Regions from separate parts of the Homo sapiens genome. Here region 2 is linked to region 1. Evidence: fine-mapped expression QTL. A gene starts in region 1. The other region holds a variant in brackets. All regions are shown on one strand. Distances are between the middles of the regions.

The links.
Region 2: its variant is fine-mapped to the expression of FREM2-AS1 in skeletal muscle (FUSION, PIP 0.95).

What each region holds. Positions count from the first base shown.
Region 1 is chr13:38,825,351-38,829,759 of GRCh38, forward strand. It overlaps FREM2-AS1 (FREM2 antisense RNA 1), which reads right to left and starts at 2,241. Exons shown (of 2, transcript NR_146963.1): 1 at 2,061-2,241. The region is part of intron 6 of FREM2 (FRAS1 related extracellular matrix 2); the gene reads left to right.
Region 2 is chr13:38,866,983-38,871,391 of GRCh38, forward strand. The region is part of intron 16 of FREM2 (FRAS1 related extracellular matrix 2); the gene reads left to right. Among named protein-coding and RNA genes, the nearest start is that of FREM2-AS1, 42 kb to the left of the region's middle. The variant A/T (reference allele first, on the strand shown) is at 2,571.

The sequences.
Region 1 (4,409 bases):
TACCTTTCTTGATATTCTTCCTATTACTTACTGTTTTTATAATATACAAAAAAATTAACCACAAAGAATAAAGCCTTATTTATTAAAAAAAAACCCACATGTAGTATATTCACAGAATATCAAACATCTAAGAACAAAACATGTGCTTTGTAGCTTACTTGAGTTTTCCTAGGTACGTCTCTGAAAAGCAGTGGTTAGCCTTCCACCTAAAGCCTGCAGTGAGGCATTGTCATTGCCCTAGAAAGCTCTGGCTGCTGCAGTTTATATTCAGCTATTAGAATGAAAATGCTGAACAGCTCCTTAGTGACATTACATGTATCTGAACACCAGTAGCCTTAAATTGGCATTTCCTTGTGTCAGCCATTTATTAAGCTGTCCAGTTCTATTACCCAGGCTCCTCTCTGAGCTACCTTTTACCCCCATCACTCACAGGCTCTGCCATGAGCATCACTCATATCACCCTGACTCAGGGCTGTGCTCCTTTCACTCTAGAAAGTGGCCTTGCTTTATTTTTAAATTGTATTTTAAAAATATATTAGACAGGTTTTTATTCTCTATAAATGAAAATACACGTTCAAATGATTAAACAAGTTGTTCTCTTTAAAGCCAAAATGTTATCTGATATAAGAAGTCATATAAAAATCATAATGCGTATGTTTACAGCTTCTTGGTTACTCTTTAAACACAAACCATCTTAAAGACAAGAATGGTTTTCTAACTCCTATTTTTCCTTGAGAGGAAGCACCTACTATCCTTCCAATAAAGACTGCAGGAAATAAGCATGAATCAATTGGATAAATGTTGAATGAGAGAAATAGCTGCCAACTAGTATCATATCAACAGGAAAAACACAAACGTCCCAGAAGGGCAAGAAGAATAGCTTGGACCTGAAAGCTTAGAGATCTGACTTCACGTAGATCAAATTGGATATTGCAGACCAGAAATACAAGAACCAAAGAAGTTGATTTCCCCAGTGTCGGGCATTTCGTAAGTGACTGAGAGGGGGAGTGGCACCCCTGGCTTGCAGAACAATGATTTTTTTTTCCACGTACAACAACGCAAGGAAGCAATGCAATAGCGTTGACTGCTAATATAGAGTAACACAAGGATAACCGAGGAAGAAGGATCTCACAATAAAGGAGCACATTCCTTCCAACTTGAAATGGAGTCGCTTTTGCTGTTTACTCTGGAGTCCCTTCCTGTGCTGCCTGCAGGCGTGTTCAGGTGTCAGTTGTCAAGCAGCCTGTGGTCAAGATTACTTATTGTTTGAGTGTCAATCACATGCTTTTATTCCTGAGACCTCACACAGATTGTGTTTGACACCATATTAATCGTCATCTTTCTTCATTCAGCTGTTGGAATTCCCAAATAAATCACCCTCATGTCACAGTCTCTGTTGATTTCAAAATCTTACTTATAAAATTTACTTTAGTTAGCAGGAATAAAATGTACATATGTGACTTCTGATTGGTGATTTTTGAAGCAGTGACAATTTTAAAGGTATGGAGAGTTTAAGCATAAAGTGACATCTCATTTTATTTCCCTCTTCCTAGAATCTTTTAATTAAGAAATTTATCCTCACAACTTAGGAATACTGATCTGTATAACATATTCTAATTTTCTCTTACGTAGAATATCATGTTCCTCCCTTTTTCTTTAATCAGATTCTCATTACACATCTTTTAAAGAAAATATTCTAAAAATCTAAACATCTAAAATGTTTACATGTCCAGACTCTTAACCATTTTCAGAAAAAGTACTATTTAATTTTTTTACAGTACAGATTTTGTATGTGAGTACCTTATGTTTGAATCCTCCTTATACCACATTCTAGTTGTGTGGCGTTGAGCAAGTTATTTAACCTCTCTGAGTCTTGACTTAATTTTATTTGTAAACAGCAGATAAAAATAATCACCTCTACAGCTGTTGTGAGCATTAAGACAATATAACAAGGTTTCTAGAGATCCTGGTGTCACTGGGGCAGGGGCAGTCAGTAAATGTAGCGATTATAATATTAATATTACATTAACTATGATGTTAAGTGGTGTGTTCTCACATACCTGATGAGATTTACATCCAAAATGATTACTTTTGAATAGAAACTTGGGAGGCAGTTGTCAGTCTTAGCTTATACCTCCACACTTGTTTTGATGACCTCCCATACACCAGACTGTATGTTTCTCATTGGAGTTTACAGACGAACAATAGGTGATTCCTGCCTTTGGGAAGCTTGAAGATGGATGTGTGGATAGATCACTGAAATAGGGCATAAAAATAATGGAAGAAGTGTGAGAAGGCAAGACTTTCTTGATAGCAGTAACTGTTAAGTAAGTTATATGTAAGAATGGAAAGACACAAACTTTGCAGGACCTCAGGACTGTGAGATGATGTTTTTGAAAGTGCAGTAACTACTCAGTTCCCTAGACAGCATAATCATCCACAACACTGTGAAATGCTATAGACAGTTGGTAGAGTTGAACCTGTTAAAGAGTAAAAATGTTTTAGAGAACTTAACGAAGAGGAGAGACTTTCTACTCTCTAATATTTTTGCCTAATATTCTGAGATTATGTTTAAAGGAGACAAGTTATACATGTTAATCTTTGTTTAGTAATAATATCTTTTATCACAAACTTATTACATGAGTACCAAGAAGGAGTCTTGTCATCTTCCTCACGGAAGCCACACCTCTCCCTTGAGGTCATTTAGTTTGATGCATCTTTCCATACATCCAATAACATGCACACATTTTTGTTTCATTTTAATTAGAGTAAATTATTGGTAAAGTGGCACAATATTCCAAAGGCAGGCTGTCTTACTTCCTTTTCAATTATTGGTTATTGATCTTGAATTTCTGGATCTCAGTTTTCTCATCTGTAAAATGAGGATGATAATAGTTTGTACCTCAAAGGTTGTTAGGAAGATTGAGTTAGTAGATAGATAAAGACAGAAATATATATAAAGTGCTTAGAACAGTTCAGGTACACTGAAAGTACTCAATAAATATTGGTTATTATTATTACATGATGATATATGTATTATCTTACGAAGTACTTATTTCACATAAGAATACATAATGGCCAGGCACAGGGTCTCACCCTATAATCCCATTTCTTTATGAAGCCGAGGTAGGAGGATCACTTGAGGCCAGGAGTTTGAGACCAGCCTGGGCAATATAGAGAGACCCCAGCTATACAAAAATAAAAAGTAAAATTAGCCTGGTATGGTGTTGTGTACCTGTAATCCTACCTTCTTAGGAGGCTGAGGCAGGAGGATCACTTGAGCCCAAAGATTCCAGTTTATAGTGAGCTATGATCTTGCCACTACACTGCAGACTGGGCAACAGAGAGAGAGAGACCATGTCTCTTAATAATAATAAATTAATTTAAAAAAAATTTTAAGAGACTATATTATGAAAAACTTTTCATGTCAATGCATATAAACCCAGCTCATTTTTAATGGTTATATAGTATTCCACAGTCTGGCTATAACATATTTAACAATCCCCTATGGATGGGCATTTAGACTGGTTTCAGATTTTTTTTCTAATCACATAAGTGCTGTAGTACATATCCTTTTTCACATATGCAGGGTGTCATTTATTTGCCTAGTCTCTATCATTACATTCAGTTTTAGATGTAACAAAATATATAATATGACAAGAAATTATCTGAGCCAAGCACTGCTATAAGCATGTTATATATATTCTCTCATTCAGTCCTTATAACAAATCCATGACACATATGCTGTCATAATCCCTAATTTTACAGGTGAAGAACTGAGACACACACATATTAGGTACCATGCCCAAAGCCATACTGCTAGAAAGTGATTCAGTAAGGGGTAGAACATAAGCAGTCTTAACAAAGCAAAGTTATTTAATTGAGAAAAGGCATCCATATTGGCATTCACTGTGCTATAGCCTATGATAGCTGGCTGTTGATAGTAAGAGTTTCTAACAGGTCTGTATCATATCCCGTAGTATGATGATATGGGCCTTCTCCAGAAATGAGGCCCTTTCAGCCTGTCATGGCAGAATAACCCTTTCCAAGATTCCTTTTAACATGATTTTGAAAGGAAATATATCAAACTTTTTCATTAACTATGGATAACTCAACTATTTATCATTATTTCTCATTTTTTGTCTTATACAAAAAGACAAACATTAATAGGAAAAAATACAAACACTATGATACATAAAATAGCATTTGGGGGCCTACTATGCTATTTGTAGTATAGTACACCATGTAGTGTAGTATGGAAATGGAGACCTCAGTAAAATGTATTTATTATATCCTTTTTTTTTTTTTAGATTTCACAGTGTCTTGATTTTACCTATTAAGTGAGTATAGAGCCCATTCCTCTATGAATAATTTTTTTATTTGAATAAACAAATTAATTTGTTTATTCA
Region 2 (4,409 bases), 42 kb after region 1:
AAAGTGACTATACTTTGCTAGATTTTTAAAATTCCAGTTCCTTTATCAAATTATTTGTGCTCAGTATTTTTTTTCTTCCTATGACTGCCAGCTAGAAAAGTCATTACTCTGCTTCTCTATTGGAACTGACAACAGTCCTACTCCATTAGGTGAAAATCAGCAATTGTAGGTTTTCAGTTAAGTTTTTCCTGCTAGAAAAGCTTATGTTCCATAATACTAGAAGAGAGTGCAATATAAGAATTACAACATAATTCAGTTCTTAATAGTCTGTGCTACTTTCTTAAGGAAGATGGCTAACTTGTATGAGTTCCTTCTGAAAGACTTCTGCTTTTGCATTGTTAAACATTAATAGCATAACCATCATGATCAATATCATAGTGATGACCAGATTCAGAGTAAATCATTGAGATTTTAGGATCTTGTTATAAAATTCTAAAATCCTTATTGTAAATTAAATGGTAATACAATTTAATAAAACATGTTGCTTACTCTCTTGAAGTGAAACTTAGAGATGTTGTGTTAGTCAGGGTTCTCCCCAGAGACAGAACCAATAGAATAGATAGATGAGAAGGGATTCCTTATGAGAATTAGCTCACGAGATCGTAGAGACTGAACAGTTCCATGGCAGGCCATCTGCAAGATGGAGAACCAGGGAAGCCAGTGGTGTGGCCCACTCCAAGAGGCCAAAGGCCTGAGAACCCAGGTTAAGTCCCCAAGTCTAAACACCAGAGAACTGGGAGTTCTGATATCCAAGGGCAGGAAAAGAAGAGTGTCCCAGCTCCGAGAAAGAGAGAGAGATAATTCACAACCACTCTTTGAGATAAGTACTATTTTTGTCCTTTTCTTTTCCTTTTTTGTCTATCTAGGCCTCAGCCAATTTGGTGGTGCCCACTTACATTGAGTGAGGATGGGTCTTCCTTACTCAGTCCACGGATTCAAATGCCAGTCTTTTCTGGAAACACTCTCATGGACACACCCAGAAATAATGCTTTACCCACTATCTGGGTATCCCTTAGTCTAGTAAAGCTGACACCTAAAATTAACCATCATAGATGGCGGTCCCATTTTCTTCTACCTTCTTCACTGAGGTTAAGTTTCTACTTTTCCCCTTGCTGTTGATAGTCTCCTACACCCTCACCTCAACATACACGCACATATTATTTACACATAGGTGAGGGAGAAGAAAATAAAAATTAAAGTAGAAGAAATTCAACCCTCTGAGATATTGCCCTAATTTTCCTCCATTAGTTTTGGCTTATAGTGAAGAGAACAAAATATCTAATAATAGTACTAACAATAACAGTAAGCACAATGATAGTTGTAATAGCTTACATTTATTGATTGTTTACTACATGCCTGCCATTCCTCTAAATACTTTGTATATTTCCACTCATTCTAGCCTCACAACAACCCTTTGAGATAAGTACAAGTTTTGAAGCAAAGAGAATTCAAATAACTAGCCCAGGTTCGTGTAGCTTGTACACCTATGCTGTTAAACACATCATAATGCTTATCTGGGCATTAAATTGAATGTGAGTGAATGTGAGAAATGGATATGGTCATGGATGCAATTGCAAGAAAGCCAGGTGAACTTTTTCCTTTGTCCTTGGTACAAGTATGCTGCCTGACAGCATTCATGAAAATACGTGCCAGATAACATCCACACCCACTGTTGGTAAAACGGTGCAAATCCATGTCCTAACAACAGTGGTCTACAGCTTCATCTGAATACAGGCAGATCAGTGTTGAATGCAAGCATATTTCATGAGATGGCACCTGAAGGAAAGCAAAGTAAATGCTTGGTAAATTCTACTTTATACTCTATTTTGGAATGTCATGAGAGCCTTCCAAACTTTTGCATTTCAGCATTAAGGATGGGAAAATGGAGAAAAATAAAAAGCAAACCATCAGCACAGACTCCATGTGCTTCAGAGGCTTCGTGGTTTTATTGACCACCCCAGGAAACAGCCCCTGCAGCAAGCCAGTGCTGACCCAGGTCTGTTTGTCCTCAACAATCCCACAGAGCCCAGGCCAAGCGCCTAGCAGACATTACTTGCCCTCCTCTAGTCCTTTCCCAAATTTGGCATCTCAGCTCAAGGTAATCACTGTGCAAACACATTTTATCAACTGGCAATTGCTTTTGCTAGGAACAACATGATAGAGAATTGATTTTTTAAATGTGTTCTTAGTAGCTAAAGCTACCACCATAAAATATTGCCAAGTCCCTGCATTTTTCTTTGTAAATGAAAATCAACACACTCTGTAAGGGTTTTCTGCCTTCTCCAACCTCCCAATTTCGATTATTTACCTTATTAGTTAACAGGATAGTTATCTGTTAACAGCAATGAAGTGTGATTAACTTTTATGCAGCTAGACTACATCTAGCTTCAGCTATTATTAAAACTATATCTGATTTTGCCATCTCATTTATTTGTACATTCATTCATTAAAGAAATATTCCATGAACACCTACTCTGTGCCAGGGAACATACCAAGTACTCATGAGGACACCAGACATGAAGCTTACGGAGGAACAAAGTCGTTACAAGAGTCAGATCATCACTCATAAA[A/T]GTTAAGAATTTTACTTGCCAAGAAAAACAAATTTGGAATTTCTCTAATGATATTTAACTCTAAAATCATTTTAATAGTTTCTAAAATATAAACACAGATAAATAGCAGGAAAAGCAAAATAGAGATGAATTAAATAAATGATTCCACTCTACCTTTGTGTGTGACACCTATTTTGTAAATAAAATTTAAAGTTGTTTGGGTTCACAATAAAAAACACTTTAGATGCAAAATGGTTATTAAAGTTAAATTAAGTTCTTAGAACTATCAGATAGTTTGGTAGTTTTTCTCTTGAAAACAATTTTTTAAAATAATTGAAGACTGCAGATCATTTGATCTTTTATTGTCCTGGCTAGCTGTTTTGCGACATAGAATCTTAACTCTCCCATTTGTTTACAGGTAAACAGCGACTGATAACATCGTTCAGTGTGCATGAATAAGCTACAGAAATGCAACCCCAATCACAGTTTTCACTTAAAACATGAAATTATAATGTACTTATCAGAAGACATAGAATAATTTTGGAAAAGTAAACAAATTTTTTTCTTAGTTGCTTTAGGGAATAATTATGCCTCTTTTTTACTATGTATTTGATTTAGATATATGAAACTTTGAGGCTGGAATATACTTGAGGTCATTTTTCCATCCCATTGTTTTATACTTTGTACACTGATACTCTTTTATATGTAAGCCACTCTCAATTATTTTGCAGGATATATACTTACCCCAGTGTGTAGCAGAATAAATTTGACAGTGTGTTACTTTTTCCATGGTATTTGCATTTTACACTTTCCTTTTAAATATGGAATTTAAAGTATTGCTTGCCTTTGATGAAGAAACTTCAAACAGCAATAGGGACATATGAAATCACTCATTGTGTCTCGGTTTCTTTAAGATTTGACAGATATTTATTTCAGTATAAACAAATACCTCGAAAAGTCCTGTGATACAGGCTGAAAGAAAATTAAGTGCTTTTTAAGTTGACATCTAAATGTTAGAATGATTGCATTGCACTCTTCACTTTTGAAGAAGGTAGGTGATCTAGATGGTCAAGATAGTTTCATTTAGGCTCCAGTTCCTCCAGGTAGAGATTCTAAGTAGACAGAAAGAAGACCTAGCCATGGGTACTAAGAAAATGCAATGGAATGCTGATTCTGTGTCCAAAAATGATCAAGCTCTAGTTTACCACAACATCAAATAAAATCAAATCAGAATTAGTTGGGGAGCTGTACTCCAAGTAACTTATTCATAGGAAGTGAGTATTAGTAATTCCCTCCAAAATAGCATACTCAGTAACATTTGATGGATAGAATATAACATTGGAAAAAATTATTCTTAGCACCTATAAAGCTTAATTGGAAATCTATTCCTAAAACCTAATTATTTTTTAAAATCATGGTTTATTAAAATTGTAAGGTAAAATATTAATCTTAAGGACTAGTGGCATATGGGTTGACTTAGTCACCGTCCATTTCCCTGCACTTCAAAATCAATTGCTCAATGAGGTAATAACAGCCGCCCATAGAAACTACTGTCTCAAAGGACTTTTAATGCAAAGCACCTCTCCTGCTGGCCAGGCTAGCAGGTAAGAGGGAATGCTAACTACTATACTATACAGCTAAGAATGAAATAACTGGTTTGGTTGATGGTTCTTTTCTATATATTTTTATTAGGGATTCAGGTCATCATTTTTGTGACATGAGCAGTTTACTTTTAACTTCATAAGAATGTTCTAAATTATAGTTCTCATGATTTAAATTATTTGCTAACTCATGCCTGTGATTCTTGTTGTGAGCTGTGTGGAAGGAGAACTAGACCATAATCAGACAGCCTGACTCAAA